5 linked regions of the Homo sapiens genome follow. The protein of the gene in region 1 purifies or fractionates together with the protein of each later gene. This does not show direct contact. Each region holds a gene or a part of one and is shown in the gene's direction. Other genes may lie near its edges.

What was found.
Region 2: the proteins of STPG3 (region 1) and CAMK1D purify together in Homo sapiens (affinity purification with mass spectrometry; 2 studies listed by BioGRID and IntAct, with this or other methods). This does not show direct contact.
Region 3: the proteins of STPG3 (region 1) and MCCC1 purify together in Homo sapiens (affinity purification with mass spectrometry; one large-scale study listed by BioGRID and IntAct). This does not show direct contact.
Region 4: the proteins of STPG3 (region 1) and CLPB purify together in Homo sapiens (affinity purification with mass spectrometry; one large-scale study listed by BioGRID and IntAct). This does not show direct contact.
Region 5: the proteins of STPG3 (region 1) and SARDH purify together in Homo sapiens (affinity purification with mass spectrometry; one large-scale study listed by BioGRID and IntAct). This does not show direct contact.

What each region holds. Positions count from the first base shown.
Region 1 is NC_000009.12:137,248,490-137,255,017, forward strand, and holds STPG3 (protein STPG3), read left to right. Parts: upstream 1-2,796; 5' UTR 2,797-2,797; coding exon 2,798-2,907; exon of another isoform or gene 2,908-3,248; coding exon 3,249-3,406; exon of another isoform or gene 3,407-3,511; coding exon 3,512-3,646; exon of another isoform or gene 3,647-3,947; coding exon 3,948-4,036; exon of another isoform or gene 4,037-4,172; coding exon 4,173-4,476; exon of another isoform or gene 4,477-4,609; coding exon of another isoform or gene 4,610-4,625; coding exon 4,626-4,756; coding exon of another isoform or gene 4,757-4,974; 3' UTR 4,975-4,994; downstream 4,995-6,528. Other genes in the region: CIMIP2A (ciliary microtubule inner protein 2A), read right to left, coding at 1,712-1,747.
Region 2 is NC_000010.11:12,831,049-12,836,945, forward strand, and holds the end of CAMK1D (calcium/calmodulin-dependent protein kinase type 1D), read left to right. Parts: 3' UTR 1-4,497; downstream 4,498-5,897. UniProt on the Homo sapiens protein: Calcium/calmodulin-dependent protein kinase that operates in the calcium-triggered CaMKK-CaMK1 signaling cascade and, upon calcium influx, activates CREB-dependent gene transcription, regulates calcium-mediated granulocyte function and respiratory burst and promotes basal dendritic growth of hippocampal neurons.
Region 3 is NC_000003.12:183,032,391-183,038,287, reverse strand, and holds part of MCCC1 (methylcrotonoyl-CoA carboxylase subunit alpha, mitochondrial isoform 1 precursor), read left to right. Parts: intron 1-853; coding exon 854-1,070; intron 1,071-4,210; coding exon 4,211-4,297; intron 4,298-4,303; exon of another isoform or gene 4,304-5,897.
Region 4 is NC_000011.10:72,422,955-72,428,851, reverse strand, and holds part of CLPB (mitochondrial disaggregase), read left to right. Parts: intron 1-5,897. UniProt on the Homo sapiens protein: Functions as a regulatory ATPase and participates in secretion/protein trafficking process. Has ATP-dependent protein disaggregase activity and is required to maintain the solubility of key mitochondrial proteins.
Region 5 is NC_000009.12:133,664,540-133,670,436, reverse strand, and holds part of SARDH (sarcosine dehydrogenase, mitochondrial precursor), read left to right. Parts: intron 1-3,566; coding exon 3,567-3,702; intron 3,703-5,897. UniProt on the Homo sapiens protein: Catalyzes the last step of the oxidative degradation of choline to glycine. Converts sarcosine into glycine.

The sequences.
Region 1 (6,528 bases):
CTGAGATCGTGCCACTGCACTCCAGCCTGGGCCACAGAGTGAGACTCTGTCTCAAAAAAAAAAAAAAAAAAAGAAAGAAAGAAGAAAGGCTGGGCACTGTGGCTCATGCCTATAATTGCGGTGCTTTCGGAGGCCGAGGCAGGATGAGGTGTGCAGATTGCTTGAGCCTAGGAGTTCAGGCCAGCTGGGCAACATGGGGAAACCCCACCTCTACAAAAAAGAAAGAAAAATTAGCCAGGCATGGTGAATGTGCCTGTGATCCCAGTTACTTGGGAGGCTGAGGTGGGAGGATGGCCAGAGCCTAGGAGGTTGAGGCTGTAGTGAGCTGAGATCGCACCGCTGCACTTCAGCCTGGGCAACAGAACCAGACCATTTCTCACAAACAAACAAAAAAACAACTAAAAGGCAAACTAAAAAACTGGAAAAAAGTTTGCAGTAAGTGCTATGAACAAATCTGGTATCAGCATAAAAAGCTCTCACAAAACAAAGATATAAACAACACCTCCATGGAAAATGCAGACTAATATGGTTTTTTTTTTTGTATTTTTAGTAGAGACAGGGTTTCACCATGTTAGCCAGGATGGTCTCGAACTCCTGACCTCGTGATCCGCCCACCTCGGCCTCCCAAAGTGCTGGGATTACAGGCGTGAGCCACTGTGCCCGGCCAATATGACCTTTTTAAGAAAAAAAGACCGCAGTCCGTAAATATAAGGGCATAAAGCAGGACCATAATCACATACATGCTGACTGTGTGTTGAGAGCAGTTTCTGAGGCTTACTGCCGGCAGGGTCACAGTGAGAAGGGCCTCTAATTTGGGTGGTGCCTTCTGGAAACCAAGTTGGTATGGATCACGTCCATACAAGACACTGCAAACTGGGACCATTGCTTCCACTCCTAAGAAGCTGTCTGGCATTCTGGTAGACGCTGGTTTTCCTCCACCGTTCCTGGCTGGTAATTCCCATATTCCCATAGCCCTTGGTAGGGCCTTTTGTTAGAATGTTGGGTGGGTGATGCTTGGGGGGTGCGGGCGGGGGACTTTTACCTCCTGCCCTCCTTTCACCTGCCCCAAGGCAGGACGCTAACATTCTCACCTTTCTGACTGTGGGTCTTAAGACCCTTCCAGGAGAGGTCCCACCTAAGCCCTGGGGGCAGGAATGCTGACATCAGGAAGCTTCCGTAAAATCCCAAGAGGACTGAGGCTCAGGGAACTTCTGGACAGGGGAACACCTGGAGGTTCCCAGAGGGCGGCAACTAGCGAGGACATGGAAGCGCCAGCCCCTCCCCGTGCCTCTCTCTACGCTTCTTCATTGGTATCCTTTGCAATCAATACCCTTTACAATAAACCAGTAAACGTCATAACTTCCCTAGTTCTATGAGTGGCTCCAGCAAATTAACCCAAAGACGGTGTCACAGGAACCCCAAATTGAAGCTAGTTGGTCAGAAGTTCCAGGGGCCCAGGCTTGCGACTGGTGTGTGTCTGGAGGCCCTGCCCCTATCTGTGTCTGGAGGCCTTCTTGGGATGGAGCTCTCACCCTGTGGGATCTGACACCATCTCCAGGTAAATGGTGAAGGAAATGAATTAGAGGACACCCAGCTTGGTGTGTGGGGAACAACCCCCCTCCCTCAACATTTGGGCAGAGGCCTCCTTCTGTGACGGCTGTGGTGGTGTGGGCGCAGAGCCGGACACTGAGAGAGCATTTCCCCCACGCACCTTCTCAAGGAGAGGATGGATGTCCAGCAGCACCATTCACGGTGGCAACGTTTATTACAGGGCAGGGAGGACCTGGAGGAGCCTATCTGTCCAATGACAAGGGCTTCATTAGCAAAGTACACTCTGTTCCACTGGCAGCCAGTCAACTCTGAACCCGGCACAACCTGGGCAGGGGCCCCGGAGCACAGGCGTGAACCCCTCGCCCAGATAAAACCCGTGTTTCCTCAAGCACGTGTCCATCTGTCTGCCTGGCAGGCCCAGTGCTGAAGGGGAGGCATCCAGAGAGGGCGGAGGAGGGCCCCAAGTTGGCCCTGTTCACAGGCCCTGCCCTGGTGGATTCTGGGCCAAGGTCAGGGCTGGGACCAACTGGTGGTCAGCTCCAGAGACCACACAGTGAGGGCCCTGGTGCCCACACGGGCTCTTGCTCACACAGGCTGGCTGTTCCTTTGCAGCTCTGGCAGCCCGGCCATCTGTGACACCCTCTAGCCTCTGTGCCCCCAGGTGAGAGGTAGGCCCTCACACCCCAGCCCTGGCTGGGCTCCAAGGCCCGGCCTGCCTCTGGTGTCAGACCCATCTGATGTGGATTTGCTTTTCCCTTAAGTGGAAATCCAGATGGGGTGGCGGCTCCTCCTCTTCCTCCAGGGAGCCTTCCTGGGCCCCTCCCTCCTACCCCCAGGGGGTCCTGGCTGGCCAGACACAGCTGGGCATCTCCTAGGGCTTGGTGGATGCCGGTGGGTCCTGTTCCCTCCACCCCCTCTGCTGAGGCCTCAGTCCTCCCAGACCTGCTAGAGTGGACCCCAGACTCCCAGGAGACCCCAGGGTGCAGGAGAGGGGAGAAGGCTGGAAAGGTTGCGGGGAGGGAGAGGGCTGGGCCAGGAGTCACCGGGGCAGGCTGGGGGTCCTGGCCCAGGCGGACCCGCTGATCATCTAGTTAGTGGGGGAGGGGCCCACCAGGGGTCGGGGCCCGGGGCAGCCCCTCCAGGGCCAGACAATGTGTCTTCCTCAGGAGTCCCAGCAACAGAGGGGCCTACCAGTGAGGTCACAGAGCTCCGTGGTGCCGTTGGGGAAGAGAGCCAGGAGACTCTGATGATGAATTCTGACCAGAAGGCAGTGAAATTCCTGGCAAATTTTTACATCAATGGAGGCAAACACTGGACCCATGGTCACCTGAGGCAGACACAACCAGAGCCCACCCAGTAACTGGCGGAGAGGGGGAGAAGGGGCGGGCCAGCTGGGAGTGGCCAGGGGGCTGAGGGACAGTGTGGGGGGCAGGTTGCTGGGCAGGCGGCTGGGGGACTGAGGGACAGTGTGGGGACAGGCTGTGGGGCAGGCGGCTGGGAGCGGCCAGGGGCTGAGGGACAGTAGAGGGGACAGGCGGCTGGGAGCGGCCAGGGGCTGAGGGACAGTGTGGGGACAGGCTGTGGGGCACGTGGCTGGGAGCAGCCGGGGGCTGAGGGACAATAGAGGGGACAGGCTGTGGGGCATGTGGCTGGGAGCGGCCGGGGGCTGAGACAGTGGCTGCTGGTCTCCCTTGCAGGCCCAAGGCATCTGTGCTGTTGTTGGGCCCGGAGCCGGGGATGGCCTGGGATGAGACACAGCCCCCAAAGATGAAGGAGATCCCAGTTGGCCTCAGGTTACAGACGGGCACCCCCCAGGAGTCCCTGCCCACCTACACCCAGACCCTGAGGGAACTATGTGAGTGAGGGTCCTGGCCACCCCACCCCCAAGCTGGTCTTTGGGGGGCTGTGGGAGGGGCCCGCTGAAAGGAGCCCAGGCCCAGAGCTTGCTTCCTGTGGCCAGTGCTGGAGCAACGCCCCCTGATCACAGCTGACCTGGAAGTCCCCAGCCCCACCAGGTACCAGGTGCCGAGCCCGTCCGTACGAGAGTCCTCCCCACACCCCCACTACAGCATCGGCTGCAAGCACCAGGGCCGAGGTGTGTGTCCCCTCCCTGAGGCCCAACCACCGGGCCTGTCCCTCACCCTGGGAATGGGGGCCTTTGCCTCTGTGCTGAAACCCCCACGGCCTGAGGGCCCCTCCACCCTTCCCTGCGTTCACCTCTAGGCTCAGCACCTGTAAGGAGGCCTGGAGAGAGGAGGGCTAGGGCTGGGGCATGGGTGGACATTGTGAAGACAAGGGTTCAGGGGCCGAGGGTGGGAACCGGGAGACAGGTTCGAGTGGGGACTGTCACCTGGGTGGGGCTCCCAGCCTTCTCTCTCTCCATCCTCCAACTACAGAGGGCGGTGGCCGCAGGGCATGGCAGACTTTGTGGTTCCAGAGCGAAAGCCCCTTCACGCAGAAAGCTGACTTCGACCAAGAGCAAAAGGTTGGGGGCTGGGCAGGAAGGGGGCGGGGAGTCCACGCAGGCAGGGGGCTGGGGGTTCCAGTGGGGCCAAAGGGGGGCTGGCTGAGGGTCCGTGGGGAGCACCCTGCCCTGCAGCCCGTCTCCTACCCCCTCGCAGTGGCCCTCGCCAGCCCACTACCAGCTGCTCAGCCGGCCCGCCTTCCCCGCCTTCAGCTTCAGAGGCTGCCACTCCGCTTCCAAGACACCTGAAGGCCACACCCACCTAGGGCTGCCTGGGGCTAGGGGGCTGGGCCTCAGGGTGCAGCCCCAGTCCCTGCTTCAGGCCTCTTTGCAGGCACCTGGCAAGAGATGCCCTGGCCCCAACACCTACAATATCCTTCCTGGGAGCCGCCTGCAGAGCCCCCGCTCGCCGGCCTTCTCGATGAGCCGCTCCCCTGCGTTCACCTCCTGGCTCAGCACCTGTAAGGAGGCCTGGAGAGAAGAGGGCTAGGGATGGGGCATGGGTGGGCAATGTGAGGACAAGGGTTCAGGGGCCGGGGGTGGGAACTGGGAGCCAGGTTTGAGTTGGGGCTGCTACCTGGGTGGGGCTCCCAGCCTTCTCTTTCGGCAGCCCGAACCCCTGGCCCAGCCGCCTACCACGTGGAGGACTGCAACTCACGCTTCCCTTCGGCGCCTGGCGTGGTCATCCAGGGTGTACGCAGACCCAAGCGCCACGACACAGGCCCCTTCTGCACGCTCTAGAGCCAGCTGGGCACAACCTGCTTGGCCCGGCCACCGAGTGGAACCATGGCCTCCCCCGGGGCTTTCCCAGGCCTCCCCTGGGACTTGGGGCCCCAGCCTGGCCTTCTGACCCTCTGGGCACCCCGATGCACCCTTCTGGCTGGCCAACCCTTCTATGGGCTGTGGACAAGGCTGGCCCAGCCTGGATCCCCCATCTGCCCATCTCCCCGCTACACTGAGATGCTGTTGGTTTTCCCGAGCTCTGTGGTGTGCAGTTGTCTGTCCTTCACCCGGGGGCGGTCCTAGAGATATGGCTGCCGCTGGGTCATTTCCGGCTTTCCCTGTTGAGGGGTCTCCATTCAGCTGCCCCTGAAAGGTGCTCTCTTCTCTAGGGTGGCAGCCTGTGACTGACCCTGAGCTCTAGCCTGGAGCGAGATGGGAGGTGGGCTCTGTGGGACACCCCCACCCAGCCGTGTCACTCAGGGGCCTGGTCTAGCTGCTGTCCACCTGAGGGTCAGCTGCTTGCCGAGCCAGGGAACTGGGAAGGAGGCGTCAAATGCCCTGAGCCGCCACCTCCAGGTGGGGTCGGCCTGGCCAGACCTCAGGAAGGGCCCAGGGATCTGCTCACCAGGGCCCAGCCCCACTTCCCCTAGGCCTTGAGCTGAAGACCTGGCTGGGCTTAGTCACCTGTGCCCTGAACACTCTGGCCCAGGGCCCTGCAGACTCCACTCCCGGGGCCTTCACCTGCTGGGACCCTGCACTGCCCCTGCCTGCAACTTCGCCTGGCTGGGGCCTCCCTTGTCATCACTGGCCTGCCCTCCTACCCAGGGTCGGGCCCCAAGGCTGCCACCTTGCAGGAGCCTTACCTGCGGTGCCGTCACCCGCACCTCCCCAGGTCCTCCCCAGACCCAGGACCCAGACCAGGCCCAGAGCTCAACCCCTTCAAAAAGGCTCTGGGCAGCTGCTTCTGTGGCCTCAGCACCACCCCCTTTCTCAGAGAGGAATCCCAGGCTCAGGATTGTGTGTGTGCTGTGACCCTTGTCCTCCTCTGCCACCGAACCAGCTGGGGGTTGGATCAAGGCACTGGAACCCTCGCCCTAGGGCTGACCAACTTGGCCAGCGGCAAGAGAGCTGTGGTAGCCATGGCCTTGGGAGCTCGGCCCGGCTTGTGGGAACAGGAGCTCTGCTCACGGCTGCACCACCAGGCACCCCTGGTGAGACCCAAAGCTAGGAGTGGGAGCGGCAGGAAAGATGGAGCGATCTCCTCCAGCTGGGCTGAGGAGGGAGGGCTTCCTGGAGGAGGTGGTGGAGGAAGAAGCCTTCAAGGAAGAGCAAGAGTTTGCTGGGCAGCGGGAAAGAAATTTCTAGAGAAAATTTCAGCAGCGGAGACCGAAAAGAGAGAGGGTGTGTGTAGGGGGCTTGGCGCGGCACAGCCTGCGGGAGGGCGGCGGGCTGGAGAGGCGGGGAGGCCCGGGGAGCCCACCCGCCTGGGATAAGAAGGGACACTGTGGAACCTGGACTCTCCTTCACGGCTCCGCGGAGCTCGGTGGGCGCCACAGCCTCCCGGTGCCTGGGAGGGCGGCCGTCGCTCGCGCTCCCGCTGCGGGCCCGGTCTCCGCCAGGCCCCGGCCCCCTGAAGGCGCTCAGATCTCAGTTTTGGCGACAGCGCCGGGGTGGGCTTCGTGCCCGTTTCACGCGGAGGAACCCACGCTCAGGAGGGAGTCTGCGCCTGTGTCCGGCCCCTGCGGGGCAGAGGGGCGGGGAGCTCAACCCCCGGCAAAACGTCCCCGCTG
Region 2 (5,897 bases), on another chromosome or scaffold:
CTGGTCTACCCTGTCCCCGCACACTTCACAGGCACTCCACTGCTTGGCAGGAATTCTGCATGGCATCTGCCACGCATGCTCACAGGGTGAAAAATCAAGCTGTCACTCTGCAAAATCTAAAAACCCTGGAAAGGTCTATAAGATGACATTAGACCCAGTTAAGAAGCAAGTGTCACCTGAGTTGGCCATGCAATGAATGAATATTATAAGCAGTATTGGAGAACTAGGCGGTTGCTTACTAAGAAGTGTCTTGGAAACATTCGAGTTCATACAGTGCATGACAAAGTAATAGAAGGCTGCAAGCGCTGAAAATGCACCCGAATCTGGTACCTAGGATGAGTACATGAATAGTGATGAATAGCCCTTTGTGCTGTGTGCTATATACAACCATTTGCATTCAGAAAGCAGCATTTGAAGCTGAGTTCCATTACTGGTGATTGAAGTATTTTCAGGAGCAGATACATGTGGTGCATGTTATATGCACTTAGTTTGAAAGTATCCCTCACCCAAAAAGTGCAGAACCTCTGAAAGGTGAGCCGTGGTGCAGGTGCCCCCCTCGCTGTTCGGGTCAGTTCTTGGCCATGCTTGGCCTGTCACACGCCGGGTCTCAACAACATCGTGCGAGGAGACAGTGACTGGTTTCAGCCCAAGAGTCAACTGTTGAGCATGACATCAGGAAGCCTGTACTGTCCTGATCCCACCAGGCTTGGGTTAATTTCCTATTGCTTCAGAGAAAGAGAGGCGCTCTTGTGCTTTTGAGAGAGCTCTCATGTTAAAAAGAGGTTGTCTTTGCACTGCGCTTGGTATGATTTGTTTTCTTATAAAACAGGAAGAGAACCTAGAATGTGCCTTTCGTGAAGGTCTGACAAATGGGGTCTCAGAGTCCTAGGACCCGCACCAAGGTCAGAGTCCACCTGTAGAGGCTGAGCATTTCTACATGCACCCAGGGTGCTGGGCTGAGGCTAAGGGTGGACGCGTAGACCCCATCACAGGCTTCCTTCCTGAGCCCAAGTCCCCCATTTGGTCACTATCCCTTCTCAGAGCAAGTGGATTCTCTTTTCCTCACTTGGAGTATTCAATGTTGAAGTAGTGGCCTGGAGTGGCCTTTCCCTCAGCTGCCTGTCTGGGCTCCCTGGCTTCCCGGATCTTCATCTCATACGTGAGGCAATAGGAGGAGTTTCTATTCATTGAGACAAACAGTGAGCGGGCACCAACAGGCCAGCAGCTTGGCCCTTTTCACAGAGGTGGCCTTGGAGTCTGGAGTCTGGGCAGCTGTCTGCCTCTCTACGGCTCTGCTTCCCAGCGGGCACACGGGTCCGGAGCCTCAGAATGAAGTGGTGCAGAGGCGCAGGGCACACCTAGGAGAAGCTCAATGACCACCAAAGCCCTTGAGGAGAGACGGGGTTTGCTGTGTTAGAGAAATGGCAACCCCCAGGACCATGCACGGCTCTGGCAGTGCACAGTGGCTGATTTTCACCAGTTCCTCCTACCCCTGCCTCTGTCGGAGACTAGAAAACATTCTACCCCTTCAGGTCTTCTTTTAAAAGAAAAGAGCTATGGCAAAGCGTGCCATACAAAGTTAAAAAAAGGAAGAGTGGCTTTGCGTTCTTGACCATGGCCACAATTCTGGTCACTTCTAGCATCTGACCTTGAGAACGGTGTAGAGTCTCTGAGCCACCGCTGGCCTTTGAGAGAGTCTCACTCTCCAGCTAGCTCTTTGTGTAGTGTCCAGGGCCCCGGCAGTCAGGATAGAGCGAGCAAAAGAAGATGGACAGTGGACAGGGCGCAGTGGCTCACGCCTGTAATCCCAGCGCTTTGGGAGAGCGAGGCGGGCAGATCACAAGGTCAAGAGATCAAGACCATTCTGGCCAACATGGTGAAACCCTGTTTCTACTAAAAATACAAAAATTAGCTGGGCATGGTGGTGCGTGCCTGTAATCCCAGCTACTCGGGAGGCTGAGGCAGGAGAATCGCTTGAACCCGGGAGGCAGAGGTTGCAGTGAGCCGAGATCGTGCCACTGCACTCCAGCCTGGGTGACAGAGCAAGACTCCGTCTCAAAAAAGATGGCCATGCTGGCCAAGGCTGGGCTCATAGGAAATATCTGTAGTAGGATGAAAGGAATCTGGCCTAGGGAGCCCCGGACTCGGTTTACCTACCCCGTACTCATCCCACTCATCTGTCTACCCTAGTGTCCATCATGCCCTGGATGAATCGTAGGTGGGAGGGACAGAAGCCGAGAACACCAGGCACACGGGGTGGGGGGAATGGGGGGAGCCCAGGTGATCCCCTTTGGAAAGTGGATTGATCCTCTCCCCTGTGGAATGACAGCTTAACCTGATTAACCCACTGGGGCTTGCTATTTTATGAGCATTTTTAAACAGAAAGGAAAGATGATATCCCAGTGCAGGTAGACTTTATTTTTGAAAGCATCGTGGCCCCTCACCTCTCCCTCTCCCCCAGAACCTTGGCCAGAATTGAGTCTTCGCGTTGGGGAGGCCACGCTGGAACCATTGCTCTAGGGCTGAAGGTGGAAGTAGGGCCACTGCCGCAGCTTCAGCCAGAGCCCTCGCTGCTTCGCAGAATTTAACAAGCACACGACTGGGATTCCTTTGGATATGAGAAAGGAAGGCAAGTGCGGGCAAAGGGAAGCTCCTCCCGTTTTTCATAAACAGAAGTAAGATGTCCTCTTTCCCAGGTTTGCACAATCACTTCTGGCAAATTAATTGAAGGTCCTTGAATTCAGCCAGTGCACGAAACCTTTGCATGTTCTTCTGAAACTGTACTTCTTCCCTATTCTGTCTACCCACACTCTGCGAACTTTGCCTTTTCCTTAAACACATTCCAGACCAAACACTGTTCAGTTTGTTAAAAAAAAAAAAAAAAAAAAAAGATGTATATACCTGTATGTGATCCACCACCCTTTTGAGGGGCACCTGGTCCTCGGTTGGGGCTGCAGGTGTGCCTGACATTTGCAAAAGATATTCCAGTCTTTCGATGTTCAGAATTGAAAATGTGGAGATAGAAAAGCTCAAACAGACTCCTAAAAGGAGGGTTTCTTTCCTGAAGACTCCAAGAAAATGAGTGTGCAGATGAGTTAGCTTGACAACCTCAACTCTGGGGAGCAGGCAGGCGGTCTGAGGAAGATAAGGGCCCACGCCCCACTCACCTGGCACCTGTTCGGTGGTCCCGGGGCATCATGGTCTGCAGCTCTGGGCCCCCAGCCCCACTGTGAAGTCAGTCCTGCATGCTGGCCGAGGCCCGGCCACCTCCCGATGCCTCCAGAGTCAGTGGGAAGGAGTCAGCCCTTCCCAGACTTCCCCGCCACCTCCAGCAGGAGCAGCTCAGTTTGTGGCTCTGGGAGCTCCGCTTTTGCAAACCCAAAAAGGCTGTGCATTTGGAAGCCAAACGCTCAGCATGCGGCTGCCGAGTCTGGTTTTGTGGACAAAGCAAACTGTGGAATGGCTTCTCGGTGTCTGTATAAAGGGACAAACGGTTGCATTCACCCTTTGTACTATAACACCGCTTCTGCATTCGCCATATCCGTTTTTTAACCTTTTTGTCTCCGGGGAACTTCTCATTCGATTATTATGTCTTCTGATGATTTGCCATGTTATTTTAAAGGTGATTTTATTTTCTTATGGACAGGAAAAAAGAAAATGAGGAGGAGTTGGTTTTACTCTTAGAGATAAGACTTCAGCAGGGGCTCAGAAACCCCAAACTCTAGTTAAATTGCTTCTCGGAGGAAAATCTTAATCTAGACAGATTCAGATTCCCAGGCTCTCCTGGAAGCCCTGCACTTCAGGGCACAGGGGCCCTGGGACGTGGTTGGCAGCCAGGCTGCGAGAGAGCTAAAAAGGAACAAGAACATCAGCTCGGATGTTTGTCTCTCAGCCCTGACACCTGCCACTCTCCTTCCCGGGGCACTTGGCCCTATCAGAGGGACATGAAATGCTGTCCGAATGGTGGCAGAAATGCAGCGACATTGCATGCAGCAGAGTCTTTGCTTCGAAAGATGGGGCGCCATGTTTCAGAGAACATTTATCTTAGTCCCACGTTCAGGTGAGAAGACCTCAAAGGTACCCTCTGTCCAGAATAAACATTGGAACAATCTCTCAATTGGCTTTTGTCACTACACATAATGTAATCTCCCTTCTTTCAGCTCCCCCAACAGTGAGCATGCTTCCCAAAAAATTACAACATCAAAACCAGGAATGTCCCCGCATCTACTATTACCAGGCTTGCAATTGGTTCAATTTTCCCATAAAAACATGTTTGTCCAAAAGAAGGGAAACTGTGAATTTATTCCATGCATGTAATAAACTCTGCAAGAAGTTTAACCCACATAGGTTTGCGGCACTGCAAAATTGTTCATGGGTCTATGTAGCAAATGATTCTCTGCCTTGACAATCATGTATACATATCAAGATTTCTATCATAATGATAATGAGATTGATGACTTCCTGTTTTCCTCCAATAAAGACAATTAATCACCTTCAGATGCTCATTTCCTCTGTCATGAGAAGGATGTGGAGTTTCAGTGTCTCTATCTTTCCTCTGCTTCCTGAAGTTTGGATTTGAAGGAAGGAGTTTGAATTGAGACCCCCCAAACTCATGGAGTCCCCCTTAAATATTTCAGGTCACCTCCCCAGTGAGCAGGGAGTGGCAGGGATGGGTGAAGGGATGGTACATCGTGCCTTTGGGGTTGGGGACAGGTGCCCAGGTTCCATGATCACTGGACAGGAAAGCTCCCCCTTTTCCCTGCTGCTGCAGAGGGGGACTGGAGGTGAGCCTGGGAACTCAAATCGCACTAACTCAATATTCCTAAGTCATGTGGAGGAAAAGCCAATGCTGATCCCCAGGAAGCGCCTCTGAGTCATGGGTGGCTTGGCAGCCTCAGGCTTCAGCAATACACACCCACGTTCTTCCATTTCCTCGGCATAGCAGTGCCCAAAGGAAGATTCTTTTCCAGGCAGAAGGCTGGCTGCTGTCTTTTGTGGGGGTTTGGGGGAGATGCAGGAGGAGGAACTACAGTTCATAGCTCATCAAATGTATTGTGGGGCTCGGGTCTGATGGCCAGACAATTCTTCCAATCCAAATAGGGATTGTGTAGGGAGAAAAAAATGAATTGGACATGTGTTATAGAAATGTAGAATTAAAACTGTCCCACACAGCCAGCATCAGATGAAAACAGCATGGGTGGGCCTTACTGAAAAAAGGCTATGAGCCCAAAAGAAAGGCAGTGCCCACTGTCTGATGTCTAGTTCTTTTGTGGTTGATTCTTGCTTCTGTAGCCCAGACCCTAATGATGAGTTGCATCAATACAAAGCTATCATTCAGTGGGTGAATATGTGATGTCGTTATTGCAGGTTTTATGGAACATAACATTTTGATGGCAAAAAAGGAGATACAAATCGTGTGCACCCAAATCCCCCTGACTCTCTCTGCCCCCAAGGAGAGTGACTATGCCATCAAAATCCTGTTTCATAGGCCAGGCACAGTGGCTCATGCCTGTAGTCCAGCCCTTGGGGAGGCCAAGGCGGGCGGATCACAAGGTTAGGAGTTCGAGACTAACCTGGCCAACATGATGAAACCCCATCTGTACTAAAACTACAAAAATTAGCTGGGCATGGTGGTGGGCGCCTGTAATCCCAGCTACTCAGGAGGCTGAGGCAGGAGAATTGCTTGAACCCAGGAGTTGGAGGTTGCAGTGAGCCGAGATCGCACCACTGCACTCCAGCCTGGGTGACAGAGTAAGGCTCTTTCAAAAATAATAATAATAATAATAATTCTGTTTCATAGAGAAAGATTCTGATAACAGATTTCCGTAAGTTCATCTGCATGTTGAGTAATTTGGCTGGGCTGGATGTGGTCTTAGGCATATGTATACACTTGGCTT
Region 3 (5,897 bases), on another chromosome or scaffold:
TTCCCAGGCTGCCCCATTTAAAGTATGACCTTTTGTTATTCTTTATCCTCTTAGCCAGCCTTCATTTTCTTCATAGCATGTAACATTATATTCAATACCTGTTTACAGATATTGTTACTTGTTGCCCTAGAATGTAAGCAGAGACTGTGAAGGCAGGGACATCATATGTTTTGTTCCTCACTATGTCCCCAGTGCCTGGATCAGAGCCTGGCACTTAAGAGATGCTCAGGAAATGGCTGTTAAATGAATGAAGGAATGGATGAGTGAATGAATGAACCCAAAGCTCAGATAGCTGGTTTTACTTTTGATCCCATTTATTGGTGTATTTGGGTTAATTTTATACCTTTTAAAATTTTTGTATCGGTATATAAAATTTGGATTTTATTGTTGGAAAGAAGCTCTTTTGAGGGCATTTAATCCTATCCTCTCCCCAGTATAGCAATCCAGCTTGCTGTTTGCAGTCTTCCTATTCTGTGGAAGTGTTCTGAGCAGCAAGTCTTCGATACCTTGCAAATGAATTTCATTTATGTTTCTTAACATTTATTATGTTCCTAACCTGAGTCAAGTAAGTGCCTCGGTATTTCCAGCATCCTCTTTGTCATATTAAAATGTAATTTTTAGTGTCAAGTCCAGATGGATATAGTAATAGCGGATGGACATAGTGATAGTGAGATGGTTTTTTTGTGTTTTTTTTCCTGAGAATTGTCCTGTTGCCACATGGTACCTTAGTAGGTTTTTTATTTTTCCTAAGAGTTGTTCACAGTAGAAAATACTTAGATAAAAAGAGCAGATGGTTTTCTGAACATATTGTTTTCCCCACTCAGCAGGAACTGGGGGTTTATTCTCTTCCTAGATTGTTGGACTGCACACCAACATTGACTTCTTACTCAACCTGTCTGGCCACCCAGAGTTTGAAGCTGGGAACGTGCACACTGATTTCATCCCTCAACACCACAAACAGTTGTTGCTCAGTCGGAAGGCTGCAGCCAAAGAGTCTTTATGCCAGGCAGCCCTGGGTCTCATCCTCAAGGAGAAAGCCATGACCGACACTTTCACTCTTCAGGCACATGGTATGGAAGGCTTTTCTCTTTCCTCTGCTTGTCAAGTTTTGCAAATCATCATTGAACATGCTTTTCTTTCTGTATGGCACACTGACCTCTCTTTTCTCCTCTCAGTGACTGACACCATTCTTTTCAGATGTGTTTTTTAGTATGAAGGAAAGCTCTTCACTTACCATGGATGCACCCATAAACACTATTTAACCCATTAACTGGAGTGTAACTAATCACCTAACATTGTAGAAATGGATCTCTTTGGCCAGGCGCGGTGGCTCACGTCTGTAATCCCAGCACTTTGGGAGGCCAGGGCGGCTGGATCATGAGGTCAGGAGATCAAGACCATCCTGGCTAACACGGTGAAACCCCATCTCTACTAAAAATACAAAAAATTAGCTGGGCGTGGTGGCACGTGCCTGTGATCCCAGCACTTTAGAAGGCCAGGGTGGGCGGATCATGATGTCAGGAGATCAAGACCATCCTGGCTAACATGGTGAAACCCTGTCTCTACTAAAAATACAAAAAATAAGCTGGGTGTGGTGGCACGCACCTGTAGTCCCAGCTACTCGGGAGGCTGAGACAAGAGAATCGCTTGAACCCGGGAGGCGGAGGTTGCAGTGAACCGAGATCGCGCCACTGCACTCCAGCCTGGACAACAGGGCGAGAGTTCATCTAAAAAAAAAAAAAAAAAAAAAGGAAATGGATCTCTTTTCAGTCAAACACTTGTTCTCCCCACATCCTACACTAATTTCTTATCACTTCTTTTGTTCGCCACTCCTCATAGCCCTACTTTGTTTTGTCCTCTGTACCTGCAGCAACTCCCTTTGTCCCAGAGTCTCAAGACAATCTAAGACTGGAGACTTAGATTCCCCAGGGTTACCCATGACTTATTGTCGAATTACTTCCGCTTTTTCCATCCTGTGATTGAATGTCTACCTAGAGACTTCATAGTGTCATAGAATCCAAGCATAGGAAGGGCCATAGTGGGGTTCATCCTGGCTACCACACATATGCATTGCATCCCTACCCCAGCACACCCACTAAGCTGTTGCCCAACTTCTTCCTAACACCTTGGGAAACTGGAAGTTCATTACCTCATCAGGTAGCTTACAGTTTCAGTCAGTTCTCCATTAGAAAGTTCTGCCTTTAAACCAAACACCGCATGTTCTCACTCATAGGTGGGAATTGAACAATGAGATCACTTGGACACAGGGTGGGGAACATCACACACCGGGGCCTGTCGTGGGGTGGGGGGAGGGGGGAGGGATAGCATTAGGAGATATACCTAATGTAAATGACGAGTTAATAGGTGCAGCACACCAACATGACACATGTATACATATGTAACAAACCTGCACCTTGTGCACATGTACCCTAGAACTTAAAGTATTAAAAAAAAAAAGTTCTGCCCTTTAAATTGATACAAAATCTCAGCTCTCACATACTTTTTGCATTTCAGGCTAGCTCTGACTTTCGGAGCAAACAGAATTTTTAAAAATCTGATCTATTTTTCTCTTTTATTGGTAATTATTATATTACCCTATACAGTTTGAGCATCCCAAATCCCCAAATCCAAAATGCTCCAGAATCGGAAGCTTTTTCAGCACTAACATGATGCTCAAAGGAAATGCTCATTGGAACAGTTCAGATTCCAGATACTTGGATCAGGGATGCTAAGCCAGTTAAATATAATGCAAATAATCCAAAATCCAAAAAAAAAAAAAAAAATCTGAAATTCAAAACACTTCTGGTCCCAAGCATTTTGGGTAAGTGATACTGAACCCGTATTATTATAGGATCCTATCATTAGAATCTTTAATTTCTGAATTCATTTAGATTCATTCAAGATAGCTGTATGGAAAGCTTAAAATGTAAAATGTTTTAAGTCCCGAAAACTGCATCTTTAGAAGATTTGTGCTCTATCCTCATTTTATCCTTTTACATTGAATGAAAATGCATCTAAATACGTCCCATGTGGTATTCCTGAGCCTGACCTTAACGTTTTTAGAATGGAACGTTGTCTTACTGTGACCTTCCTTTTGAAAGTTTATAATTGGTACAGATATGAGGTTCAGAATAAATTGCATCAGCTTAGCTATGCTGAAGCTCCTGGATATTGTCCAATAGAGGATATACACCCAAATGCCTATAAGGGGCCAGGCGCGGTGGCTCATGCCTGTAATCCCAACACTTTGAGAGGCCCAGGGCGGGTGGATCACTTAAGGTCAGGAGTTTGAGACCAGCCTGGCCAACATGGTGAAACCCCATCTCCACTAAAAATAGAAAAGTTAGCCAGCTGTGGTGGCACCCACCTGTAATCCCAGCTACTCTGGAGGCTGAGGCAGGAGAATCACTTGAACCCAGGAGGTGGAGGTTGCAGTGAGCCAAGATCATGCCACTGCACTCCATCCTGGGCGACAGAACGAGACTCGTCTCAAAAAAGAAAAAAAAAAAAGGCCTATAAGGGCTGGGCCAACAACATAAAAACATAAAAGAGTAAAAGAGGCCAGGTGAAAGAAAAATAGTGAATAGTAGAGACTGGTGACCTGGAATGAATTTGCCCCATCAAAAGGTGGTGACTGTGGTACAGTTTATGCCACTATGGGATTAGAGTTTAGATTGCAAATATTCAGATTCTTCAATAGAAGCTAGAATTTTTCACATGAAATTTCATAAGATGTAAACAAAACCAGCCCTTTAAACTTAACAAGAAGAACAAAAAAAGCACATCTGAGCTGCCAGTTTAGGACGTGTGTTTTTTTGTTTTTTTTTTTTTTTGAGACGGAGTCTTGCTCTGTCGCCCAGGCTGGATCCGGTGCAGTGGCGCAATCTTGGCTCACTGCAAGCTCCACCTCCCGGATTCACGCCATTCTCCTGCCTCAGCCTCCAGAGTAGCTGGGACTAGAGGCGCCCGTCACCATGCCCAGCTAATTTTTTTGTATTTTTAGTAGAGACGGGGTTTCACCGTGTTAGCTAGGATGGTCTCGATCTCCTGACCTCATGATCCGCCCGCCTTGGCCTCCCAAAGTGCTGGGATTACAGGCATGAGCCACTGTGCCCGGCCAGCACTTGCATTTTATGTTTTCTTTTGTAAGGTGTAAATTTCATAGGCTTGATACTCATAAGTTTGTTACTGAATTTTAAATTTTTTCTAGATCAATTCTCTCCATTTTCGTCTAGCAGTGGAAGAAGACTGAATATCTCGTATACCAGAAACATGACTCTTAAAGATGGTAAAAACAGTAAGTAATGTTTCATTAAAAGAGAAATGTGAGTCATAGAAATGTATCACATTAATCTGAAAAAGAGGATTCCAGCCTGGCCATGATCAGTCAGTTACATTTTTTAAATGCCTAGGCTAAACATTGGAGGGAAATATGCCAATATAATAGAATTGATTGGCTCTGGGTAGTAGAGTTGATGGTATTTGCTTTTCTTCTTTACACTTTTTAAAAATTTTGTAAATATTCTAAAAATATGTCATAAAATAAACATAGCAAAACAGCTGAAATGAAATATGCCAGAATGTTAGAAATATGCCCAAAAAAACCTCTTTTTCCCCAATTCTTTGTACTTTTTTTTTTGCTTTGCAATTTTTCTGCAGCGAGAATGTATTACTTTTAAATAAGAAAAACAGTTTTCAAAACTATGTCAGAGAGGGACGATTACCCACTGCCCATGCAGTGTTTCAGGGGTTTCAGGTGGAAGTGGGTCACTGCAGAGCTGTAATTTATTAAGTGCCTTATCTGATGTAAGTTTTTATCTTCACAACGTAAATGAGGGGGAGTCGCTGTTATACCCACGTATGGAAGATGAAAGCATGGATGGTAAGGCACAGAAGTGAAGTAGTTTAGTCAAGGCTAGTGAGTGGCAGAACTAGGATTCACACCTACTCTTTGTGACATTGACTCTTAGGCTGTTTCCACCACTTTTCCAGTAGAAAATTGATTTTTGATTGTAAACTAATTTGAGTTGGCTCGACTTAGTGACTGATTTTCTTTAACTGATGTCAAAAGAGGCTGACGCTTAAGCCAGAAGGCAGTTTATAAACTTTTGGCTGGAGCAGTGTAGCAGCAGGACCAGAATTCTATGATAGCTGGTCACTGTATCCCTTCTGCTGTGAGACAGTTTGTGTGGGAGGCCCAATGGGCAGAGTCAGAGCTCAGAATCCTGGCTAACCTTGAATGTGACATGTCATTGAACTGTGACAGTTCTGGTATAAAAATATGCCTCCCAGGTAGAGCAGAATACTTTCACCAGCTGATCACAGAACGCTCTTCCTTGGACAGAGGAAAATCTCTTTTACTTCACCTCTATGAAGACACTCACCCAGTAACAAATTTTTTTTTTTTTTTTTTTGACACAGACTCTGGCTCTGTTGCCCAGGCTGGAGTGCAGTGGCACGATCTTGGCTCACTGCAAGCTCCACCTCCTGGGTTCGTGCCATTCTCATGCCTCAGCCTCCCGAGTATCTGAGACTACAGGCACCCACCACCACGCCCGGCTAAGTTTTTGTATTTTTAGTAGAGACAGGGTTTCACCATTTTAGCCAGGATAGTCTCGATCTCCTGACCTTATGATCCACTCACCTCAGCCTCCCAAAGTGCTGGGATTACAGGCGTGAGCCACCATGCCAGCCAGTAACAAATATTTTGTTCACACAAGTTTATTGGGTTACAGCTCTTCAGTTATTTTTCAATCCTGAGCCTAGATGGTCATTATCTTAAGTGCATTGGGCATATTGTTAAGCCTTTATAATGAAAATTTGTAAACATCTTTATATAGTAGCATTCTGCAAATGGTTAACCCATCCATTTATGCTCATTTCATCCTAAAAAATAC
Region 4 (5,897 bases), on another chromosome or scaffold:
GCAATTAAACACCCATCCCAAAAATACAGAAAGTAATTGAACTTAACGGTGTATGTGTGATTCAGACAATTTTTCTGAACATTCATTCTCGTGTGGATAGTGTCTGGGGGGGCTTTTCATGTGTGTCCCCAGGCTCTAGCCTGCTTTTCTCCTGCCTCCTCTTGTCCCACCTCACTTGGTCAGGATGACCCTGTCAGAATCTCCCTTCACTCCATGTGAGGACATCAGAGATGAGCGAGGCACAGACCTGCCCTCAGCCCCCATCTCATACAAGACCACAGAGCCAGGAGCAAGCTAAGCAAAGGCGGGAAGCAGATGCTGGCTGGCTGCTGGGCCTGCGGAATATGTTGATGCTCCTGAGGTGGGATTTGTACAGGGTGTCAGAAAAGAGGGAAGGTTGTCTGAGAGAAGCTGGAATGTGCAAGGCCTGCCATGCCCAGGGTGAGGAGTTTTGAACTCTTACTCTGTACACAGTGGGGAGACGTGGGAAGTTTTTGAGCAGGGGAATGACCCAGTTAAGGCTGACTTGCAGAGGAGTGAAGGATGGACTGCATTGGGAAAAGGCTGAGGGCCGATCTGTTAAGAGGCTGTTTCTGTTTCAGTAAAGACAGATTCAAGATGATGAGGGCCTGAATGAGGACATCCTTCCCTCCCCCTCACCCAAAGCAGCTCTTGATTATGAAAGAGTGAGTGGGCCTCTGCTGGGCACTGCAGATGGGGGATGGGGATGGTGACCCAGGCCCTGGTCTCAAGGAAACAGACATGTAACCCACCAGTTATAGTTCTTCCTGCGAACAGAGCCAGGTCTGGGGGCAGTGGGGGTAAAGGGAGCCTGACCATCCTTGCTAGAAGGAAACTTTCTGGAATTCCTACAGTAGGTCCTTATTCAGCCTTTCTGTACCCTAGACTCTGTACAGGTGGTTCATGCTGCTCTTTATTTCTTCTTCAATGTCCTGGGCTCTTAGCTCTGCCCAACAGACCTGCCTATAGCAGGACAGAATCCCATACTCATTTATTTCTTTGAATTTACACATACAGTCATGCCTTGCTTAACAATAGGGACACATTCTGAGTAGTGCAATTTCATCACAGTGTGAACATCATAGAGTATACTTACCCAAACCTAAATGGTAATAGCCTACCACACACCTAATCTATATGGTATAGCCTGTTGCTCCTAGGCTAGGAATCTGTATAGCACGTTATTGCCCTGAATACTGTAGGCAATTGTAACATAATGGTAAGTATTTATGTATCTAGACATACCTAAATACAGAAAAGGTCATTTGTTGCACTATGATGTTGAGACAGTTACAACGTCACAAGAGGATAGGAATTTTTCAGCTTCATTATAATCTTATAAGACCACCTCATACATGCAGTCTATCGTTAACAAACACATCATTGTGTAGCGCATGACTGTAGGTTACACATGGTTGGGTCACTGTGTATATGATTGATATGGTCAATAATATCAGTATTTAGAGCAAAACTCAGACCTCGTAAATAATGTCGTGCTTTACCCTTCTTCCCCACTTGACCTCTCTGGGGCTCTGTACTGTGTCTGCCTCTACTTGACCTCCCCCAGCTCCTGTCCTTAGCCCCAGAGTCTTGGGAAAGTTCTGGATAGTGAAGGGCAGCAGCCTAATGCTCTTCTGCTCCCAGGGGGAGGTATTCGATCCTCCTCTTTAAGGACACCCTGGAATCTTCAGTCCATGGGCCCTGGATGTGGGTCCTCCACAGATGGCCCTCTGCCATCTGTATTCATTATCCTCTGCTTACACCTTTCAAAGCTCTAGTGCTGCTTTCCTTACAGAGCCTTCTTGGATTCCTCCCAGCTGGGTGTGATCTCATCTTCCTTTGCCTCTTCCCCCCACTCTGATCCTACACCTGCCTTCTGGTCTGGGAGGGTATGAGGGTGATCTAGAAAGGACCATGGCAGCTTGTCACAGGAGGGAGCTCCTTTTGTGGAAGAGAAGCTGGAGGTCAGGTTGGAGAAGTAGAGCTGAATGCCACTTGCCACACTGTTCTTTATATGAAGAAGTCTGTGGGCTATATTTCATCTGAAACTGCTGGATTGTGCACCTCCTGAAGGGCAGGGACAAGGTTGTGTTCTCTACCGTCTTTTACCCTGTTCCACAGCACAGCGGCACTTACTTGTTTTTTGTGACTCTTTCTTTGCTTTTTATTGACTTTTCAGTGTACCTGAAGTAAGCAGTCCAGAGGCTTTCACACTCCCCTTGGCTATATCAGAGGGAGGCCAGGTCTCTTCTCTTTCCTCCCTCCCTCGCTCCCTCCCTCCCTCCCTTCCTGTGTGACATCCATTTCCTCCCTTCTCCCCTGAGGCACTTAAGTTCATCCATCTCTGGTTCCTCAGAAGTGGAAGCCTGGCCTCCTACCTGTCAGCAGTGTGAGCAGGTGGTCCTGCTCCTGGGCTTACCCCAAACTTGAGCCTGAGGAACTGCTCACCCGAAACCTAGGGCACAAGGCAGACTAGAGGCACATCTGTCCAGGCTCAGGCCAAGCCATGTGAGGAGTTGTCAGGACTGGGACTGGGAAAAGTGAGGCCTCCTGTTCTCCCGGTGGAGATCACATTTCCTTCAGCACAAAGTGGGTGAAAGACAACACCCCTACCCATCTCCCTTCTCCCAGCAGGGGGCTAGGCCTCTGCTGAGTGCTTACCTCAGTTGTTCATCAGCCCAAGCAGTCTCTAATAAAGGAAGCCTGGCAAGATCAGTCTTGGGCCTCAGACTGCCTGCCCTTTTTCTCCAGGATTTATTTATTCATTTGACAAACAGCATCTGCCATATCCTGAGTCCTCTGCTTGGCACAGGGAACACTTAAGCAGTCATGGTTCCTGCCCATGATGACAGAGTCGGGGTAAACTGTGGCAATAGGGTGGTCAGTGCTGTGAGACAGGAAACTACAGGGGCTGCAGGAGACCAGAGGACAAACAGCCTGGAGGATCTGAGAAAGACTTCCAGAGGAAATGGCACCTGATCATAGACTTAAAATATCAGTTGGACTTTGTAAATAGAAGGGGAAGCCATTCCAGGCAAAAAGGGCAGCATATGTGGTAGCATAAGGCAAGGAGCAGCCTGGGGGGTATGCAGAGGGGAAGTCACTTGCTGTTCGGTGTTGCTGGATCACAGTCTGAGGCCAGGAGGGACTGGAGACAGGTAGCGACCTGGTCGTGGAGAACATTGATTGACTCTCCGTTTGTCCCTCAGTCGCCCATCTGTCCAGCCTGTGCTTTGTGCCTAGCCCTGAGCTGAATTTGTGGCAACAAAATGAGGAAGGAGAAACAGTCCCTGCCCTAGAGGAGCTCGTGTGCCCTCTGGTGAGGAAGAAGGACATGAGTCAAACATTGAGAGCCAGTGAAACAAGGAACAAATTACCTACCTTCCAACTAACATGAAGATGATAATAACTAACCCCACAGAGTGGCAGAGTCATTATTACTAATAACAAAATGATTAATTCATTCAGCCAATACTTACGAGTGCATATTCAGAGCTAGGCATTGGGCTGAATGTGGCAGTTAACAGTAACGAACAAGATTGGCACAGTCCCTGCCCTCTTGGCACAGTCTAACTAGGAGTCAGATAACTAATTATGCAACTGTAAAATTAGTAGAAAGAGTTTACTGGGGCCAAGTTTGAGGACTGCAACCCAAGAGTCTAGATTCAAGTTGCCATAAATATATGCTCCAGATTAGCAACAGTTGCAAGTGTGTTTTTAAAGGGAAAAACAAGAGACACTTTTTTGTTGTTTTTGAGACAGAATCTCAGTCCGTCACCCAAGCTGGAGTGCAGTGGCACGATCTCGGCTCACTGCAACCTGCGCCTCTTGAGTTCAAGTGATATTCATACGTCAGCTTCCCGAGTAGCTGGAATTAGAGGTGCATGCCACCACACCTGGCTAAGTTTTTTTTTGTGTTTTTTTTTGTTTTGTTTTGTTTTTTTTGAGACGGAGTCTCATTCTGTCCCCCAGGTTGGAGTGCGGTGGTGCGATCTCGGCTCACTGCAAACTCCGCCACCCGGGTTCATGCCATTCTCCTGCCTCAGCCTCCCGAGTAGCTGGGACTACAGGTGCCCGCCAACGCGCCCGGCTAATTTTTTGTATTTTACAAAGAGACAGGGTTTCACCATGTTAGCCAGGATGGTCTGACCTCGTGATCCGCCCGCCTCGGCCTCCCAAAGTGCTGGGATTACAGGCGTGAGCCACCACGCCCAGGGTATTTTTGTTTTTTTTTTAAGTAGAAATGGGGTTTCACCATGTTGGCTAGACTGATCTCGAACCCCTGACCTCAAGTGATCTGCCCACCTCGGCCTCCCAAAGTGTGCTGGGATTACAGGCCTGAGCCACCACGCAGAAGAGGCACTTTCCAAGTTGTTTACCAAGAATTTACATTAAAATAACAAGCTATTGTTTGGCTATACATTGTTCTTTGTATCACATATTCCAGGAACTACAGGAAAATAATGGGTGAGGCAGCTAGTTAGGAAACTACAGGGTAGAAAAGAAAGAAAAAAATGGCTTTAAACAATTGCCCCCAGGCATGGGGCAAGGGTGTGGGGTTATGGCTGAGCGCCTATACTCAGGTCTCTCTGGGCCCGATACATTTTGCATAAAAATATGATAGAACAGTACATCAGAATATTATTCATCAATTCAAAGGAAGCACTGATACGTGCTACAACATGGATGAACCCTGAAAATATGCTAAGTGAAAAAAGCTAGTCACCGAAGGCCACTGTCTTTGTCTGTTTGGGCTGCTATAACAGAATACCGCAGATTGAGTGGTTTATAAACAGCATAAATGTATTCCTCTCAGTTCTAGAGATCAAAGTCCTAGATCAAAGCTTCTGGTAAATGAGACTGAAGTGAACTCTTAATGATGAAGAGAAAGGCGGAAGACAGTTCAGTTAGAGGGAACAGCAGGTGGAAGGTCCTGACTCAAAGATGTGGAGAAATTGAGGAATTGAGAGAAGGCCAATAAGGCTGGACCCTAGAAAGCAAGGGGGAGAGTGGTGTCAAATGAGGTTGGCGAGTTAAGCAGGGACCATACCACACTGGGTCTGTAGGCCATATTAACAGTTTTTATTTTTGTCCTAAGAGCATGGGCAACCGTTGAGGAATTTTCAGCCAGTATGTGTATGTGTGAGAAAGACTAACAGGTACACATTGTGACATGATATAGATCTGCAGTTTTGAAAGATCATTCTGGTTGTTTGGTAGAGAACAGATTGGTAGAGATCTGTGTTGGATGCTGGAAGACTGGTTGAAAAGTAGCTGGAGTAGTCCAGATGAGAGAAGATGTGACATGGACTAAGATGACAGCAGCAGAGATGGAGGAAGTAAACTAGATAGGACTTGGTGATGGTTAGGACAATGCCTGGTACAGTGCCTGCCACACAGTAAGTATTCAATAAATGAATGAATATAAATGGATATGGTTGATTAGGGAGAAAAGGGTCTTAATGAATTTCAGTTTTCTGGCTTGATCATCTGTGTAGATGCTCTTGCCATTCACCGAGATGTGGATCCCTGAGGAACACTGGGTTTGGGGAAAAGATTATGAGTTCAGTTTTAAACATGCTGAATTTAACATGCCAATGGAAATGTCATTTAGGCACTAGAACCTCTGGGTCTTTCTGACTTCCCACTATACATGCCATGTTGCCTCTTAAATTATCATTTAGGAGATTCTTTTGGTGTCCTGTTTTGATTTCTGGTTTTATGGCTTTAGAAAATAAAGAACTTCATACTAGCCCAAACTGGTTTACTAGATGGCTTTGGGGAAAAAAATCTGATTTGGTTTACAGTTCAGGAAAAAAGAAAGGGTTGGGCTTTGTTGAGGGGTAAACATATTTATTCTAGCTTTGCACTGATGG
Region 5 (5,897 bases), 3.6 Mb from region 1:
CTGCAGATAAGGAAATCGAGGCCAAAGAGAGAGGCCATCTGGCCAGGTCACATGTTGTTAAAGGCAGAAAGGCAGAGAGAGTTTGCTCTTTTTTTTTTTTTTTTTTTTGAGACGGAGTCTCACTCTATTGCCCAGGCCGGAGTGCAGTGGCGCAATCTCGGCTCACTGCAACCTCCGCCTCCCAGGTTCAAGTGATTCTCCTGCCTCAGCCTCCCAAGTAGCTGGGATTACAGGCGTGCACTACCACACCCAGCTAATTTTTGTACTTTTAGTAGAGATGGGGTTTCACCATGTTGGCCAGGCTGGTCTTGAACTCTCCTGACCTCGTGATCTGCCTGCCTCGGCCTCCCAAAGTGCTGGGATTACAAGCGTGAGGATCCCAACATGCTGGGATTCAAACCAGGCCAGTGTAAGGTTGCGCACCTGGGGCCCCTCCCAGGCCAGCAGGGCCCGTGGGGAGGTAGAGAAGGCTCCACACTCTTCCCATGCAGGTCTCAAAAGAGAAAGGTGCAGCCAAGCCCAGGCCACCCCTCTGTGGCAGGTCTAGGCCGAGGGCCTTGGGAGGGTGAACCCAGGGAGCCTGACCTCCCAGTCACTGCAACACGACCTCCCATCCCGTTCTGGTTCAGTCTCCCCACAGCCCTGTGATAGGGGGAGAGGGGCTCGGCTGGGGCCGTCATCCCCACTCACGAATGGAGACCACATGGTGCCAAGGAGCAGGGGACTCACGCCCAGTCACACGGCAGAGGTGGAAGGAGAGACTCTGCCTGGGGGCGACCTGACCTCCTGCTCTCCCCACTGAGAGTGGCTTTGAGCATGCTGCTGGAGCCCGGCGCACGTGATCCCTGGGCTACTGGGAGAGTTTGGATTCCAGGAACCCGAGTCCCACTTGGGTTGCAGGGCAGTCTGAGAAGATCAGGCCCTGATCAGAGGCCCTCCCGTGGTGCCCACGGGGGTCTGAAGCACAGGTATCCGGGGAAGTGGGCGGCTTTGGGCTCTGTGGACATGGAGCTGACAGCCAGCTGCAAACACTGCCACTTCTCCCAGATTTCTGGAGCCTTCAAAAGGAGTGTCAGAGTGACGAGGGGAGGGAGAGGGAGGACGAGGGAGAGGGAGGGTGAGGGAGGATGAGGGGAGAGGGAGGGTGAGGGAGAGGGAGGGTGAGGGGAGAGGGAGGGTGAGGGGAGAGGGAGGGTGAGGGAGAGGGAGGGTAAGGGAGAGGGAGGGTGAGGGAGATGGAGGGTGAGGGAGAGGGAAGGTGAGGGAGAGGGAAGGTGAGGGAGAGGGAGGGTAAGGGAGAGGGAAGGAGAGAGAGAGGGAGGGTGAGGGAGAGGGAGGGTGAGGGAGAGGGAGGGTGAGGGGAGATGGAGGGTGAGGGAGAGGGAGGGTAAGGGAGAGGGAAGGTGAGGGAGAGGGAGGGTAAGGGGAGAGGGAGGGTGAGGGAGATGGAGGGTGAGGGAGAGGGAAGGTGAGGGAGAGGGAAGGTGAGGGAGAGGGAGGGTAAGGGAGAGGGAAGGAGAGAGAGAGGGAGGGTGAGGGAGAGGGAGGGTGAGGGAGAGGGAGGGTGAGGGGAGATGGAGGGTGAGGGAGAGGGAGGGTGAGGGGAGAGGGAGGGTGAGGGGAGATGGAGGGTGAGGGAGAGGGAGGGTGAGGGAGAGGGAGGGTAGGGGAGAGGGAAGGTGAGGGAGAGGGAGGGGGAGGGTAAGGGGAGAGGGAGGGTGAGGGAGAGGGAGGGTGAGGGAGAGGGAGGGTGAGGGGAGAGGGAGGGTGAGGGAGAGGGAGGGTAGGGGAGAGGGAAGGTGAGGGAGAGGGAGGGGGAGGGTAAGGGGAGAGGGAGGGTGAGGGAGAGGGAGGGTGAGGGAGAGGGAGGGTGAGGGGAGAGGGAGGGTGAGGGAGAGGGAGGGTGAGGGAGAGGGAGGGTGAGGGAGAGGGAGGGTGAGGGTGAGGGGAGAGGGAGGGCGAGGGGAGAGGGAGGGCGAGGGAGAGGGAGGGTAAGGGAGAGGGAGGGTGAAGGGAGAGGGAGAGGGAGGGTGAAGGGAGAGGGAGAGGGAGGCTGAGGGAGAATGAGGGTGAGGGAGAGGGAGGGTGAGGGAGAATGAGGGAGAGGGAGAGGGAGGGTGGGGGAGAGGGAGGGAGAGGGAGGGAGAGGGAGGGAGAGGGACGGTGAGTGGAGCCGTGTCGTCGTCATCCTGTGGCTTCTCCCTGGGTGCCTGTCAGGCTCTGTCTCTTGTGTGACAGCCTGTCCAGCTCCCTGAATCAGCTCAGCTCCTGGAGAGGGGGCCCCTTGCAGACAGGTCAGCATCCATGGGTCCTTTCTGCTTGCCTGACCCCGACCTTCTGGCCCTCCATGAAGTACCTGCAGCCTGATGTCTGGGTTTAGGAGGGCCTCGGACGGCCCCTGTGACCCAGTGCGCTCTGCTCAGGGGTTTCCTGTCAGGCTGCATAATAGCTGCCCTGCGCCGCGGCTCTGGACTGTTGCAGTTCCAGGACAGGCGCAGAGAAGATGCTGGCAGTGGAGTCACAGAGAACAGCCCTGCCACACTGCTCTGGGACTCCGGGCAGTTGGGGCCTCAGCGTCCTCACGTGGAGAACAGAAACTAGGGTGACACCAAAGATGTTTACGAAACCTCCTTCCAGCCTCGTCCTAATCTGATGGACAGGTGGGACCCAAACAGTGACTCCAGGCTGAGGATGCAGGAGGTGCCCTCAACATCACCCCAGCCCTTCCATTCAGGGACCCCTTTGCATAGCTGCCGCCGTGATAACCCATTGCACAGGGAGAAGTCTGCAGACTGGCAACAAAATGTTACCAGTTAGCCCTGGGTGCTGGCCTTTCTTTGATTTTAGCTTACTTTTTTTTTTTTGTCTTCCTGCTTTTAATCTTTAAAACTTTTACAGTGAGCATTCATGTATTACATGTAGTAAAGTCCTTTGAATAAAGTATGTATTGTACTATAAAAAAAATGAACCTGGCCGGGCGCAGTGGCTCAAGTCTGTAATCCCAGCACTTTGGGAGGCTGAGGTGGGCAGATCACTTGAGGTCAGGAGTTCGAGACCAGCCTGGCCAACATGATGAAACCCCATCTCTATTAAAAATACAAAATTAGCCGGGCATGGTGGTGGGTGCCTGTAATCCCAGCTACTCCGGAGGCTGAGGCAGGAGAATCGTTTGAACCTGGGAGGCGGAGGTTGTAGTGAGTCTAGATTGTGCCACTGCACCAAAAAAAAAAAAAAAAAAAAAACCAGAGTTGAACAACAATGGAAGGAAATCGGAAGCAGGGGCCCTCCCAAATATACGGGGCTCGCTTCTGGAAACAGCAAAGTCCACTCCTGGTTTTGATGTTTTCTATTCATCCCTTTTACTCACTCGAAGCCCGAGCCCTGCTGTCCAGGCCAGGTGCTGGGCTGGCTCTGGGGACCAGCGTAGTCCTAGTAGGCCAGCCCTATCTGCCTGGAGCCACGGTTGGGTGTGCATCATGCAGCCCCCCATTCTCCTCCAGGCCGCTGTGGACGCGTCCCCACCCTGCGGTTTCTGGGGCCCCAGCTTTCTCTACTGCTTCTTCCAGCAAAGTACCCATGTTTGGCCTGGAGGCCATCTGGAGGAACGGCCAAGTGGTGGGCCATGTCCGGAGGGCTGACTTTGGGTTCGCCATCGACAAGACCATCGCCTACGGTTACATCCATGACCCCAGCGGTGGGCCGGTGAGTCCCCTTCTCTGGCCCTGCTAAGGCAGATGCCGATCCCTCACCAGCTCCAAACCAGCTCCCTGCACTGCACCCTGAGTGTGCCGGGCATAGGGAGGAGGCACGGGTGTGGTCCAGAAGAGGAGGAGGGAAGAGAAAGGAGGGAGGAGGGAAGAGGGGGAGGAAGGAAGGAGGAGAAGGAGGGGGAAGGAAAAAGGGGAGAGAGGAAGGAGGAGGAGGAGGGAGAGGGAGGAGGGAGGGAGAAGGAGAAGGGGGAGGAAGAGGCCTCAGCAGGTGGAGGACTCCCCAGCTGTGCCTGGGCAGAGCCAAAGCTGCTCTCTGTTTTCTTTCTGGAAGAATCCGACTTTGGTGATTCCAGGCTTTTTTTGGTTAGAAGGAGGTGCCAGCCAGCCAGGCTGATACCTTCCAGCTCCTCACACCAGAGACCCAAACCTCAGGCCACCCACAGCCCACCCTTTGCCTGGGGTGCAGGGGTGGCCCCCAGGGTGACCGACTAGAGACTCAGAGACCCATGTTCCTATCCTCTCTTTCCTCACCCCCGACACCCCTGACCCCAGGCAACCCCACCCCCTCCAGGTGACCCTGACCCCTGGCTGCAGGAGGCAGGAACAGGCTGGAAAGAGCAGGCACTGCCCCCAGGAGCAAGTCCCAGGACAGCTCTGGGTGGCCAGGGGTGGTGGGGCAGGGGGTGGGCAGCCTCCCCAGAAGGGGAAGGGGTGGTCTCTACCTCCACCTCCTTTTCCCATCTTTCTGGCACTGCAAGTAGAGGTGCCGGTGAGGAGGGTCGTGTCTCTCCATGGGAGCCGATCTGACGTTTGGCCTAAGCCCTAAGTGAGGCCGGGAGGTGCTGGCCTGGCTCCAGAGCCTTCCAGCCTGAGCCCCTGATGGACACGTAGAGGGAATTGGGGAGGGAGCGAGCACTTGGGAGAAGCCATGAGGAGGGGTAGGCTGGAGACGGAGCAGCCTTAGCAAGAGCTGCAGAACATGCGCAGGCCCAGCTCGCAGGCCCAATGGGGAGGGGACACCGCCAGGCCTCGGGCAAGACCATGGTCCTGTGGAGCTGTGGGGAAGTGGCAGCCCATGGGGCTGAGTCCGGCGGTGGAGCTGGGAGGCTGGGGACACACTTGATGCCACTAGCCTTTGGATCTGCCTTTTACTTGCTTTGTGACCTTGGATAAGGATCCTCTCTTGGAGCCTCAGTTTCCTCATTTATAAAATGTGGACACTCACCTACCATGCAGGGCTGTCATACAGGCCACTGCACAGAGTGAGTCTTAATATGTGGGGATTGTGATGGCATGGCTCCCACGGTGGGCAGGGCCTCCTGACACAGCCCTGGGGCCATGGTCCTGGGGGCCACAGCCCTGGGGCCCAGCCAAACCGGAGTTTATGGGCTCCATGCCAGGGTGGGCTGGGGAGTGGAGGCTCCTTTGCCATTTCTTCAAAGAACAGTAATGCTCGCCTTTCTCCGGAGTCAGGGATGGGTCCATAACCAACGTGACCAGGGAAGCCGAGGTTCCGAGGTTAAACGGCATCCAGACAGGCAGCCGGGGAACCAGTCGATGCACCCAGAGCGGCCGGTGCACGTCTCCTGCCCCCTCCATCAGGGCTGTCCAGAGCATTTGCACCATGGAAATGGGCAAATGCTACAGTCACACCCACCTCACCCCAGAGCTGGTTGTTAAACATTTTCTAGCACCCAAGTGGGGTAACGGAGGTTTCTGCCTAAGATAGGGAAACCTGCTCATTGATGGGAAAGGCTCCGAGATGGGGAAGGCGTTTCTGCCTCGTAGGTATCTGTTAGCAAGGCCAGATGCCCGCTTTGAGTTGTGCATGCCCGTGGACATCTGAAGGCCACCAGCTCTCCATGCTGCCTGCCTGCGGGGGGCAGCTCAGAGCTCTCAGCCCTGCAGGTGCACACATGGCTCAGAAGCACCACTCCTAAAGCTCCTGTCGCAGAAAAAGCTTGGTTTGTTTTTTATTTTTTTCATCCAGTCCTGAGCTGCTAGGAACAAGAAGGAGCCCTCTGACTCCCAGAGCGGAGCCCGAGACTCCCTCCTGTGGCCCTGACCTTGGGTTTAATTGCTGTAAAGGAAGAACAGCTTCCCTGAGTGGCCTAGCCTGCCCTCCTCATAGCAGCTGCAGCAAAAGTGCCAGGCGTCACCAGCTGTGCCAGGCTGGAGGTGACACCC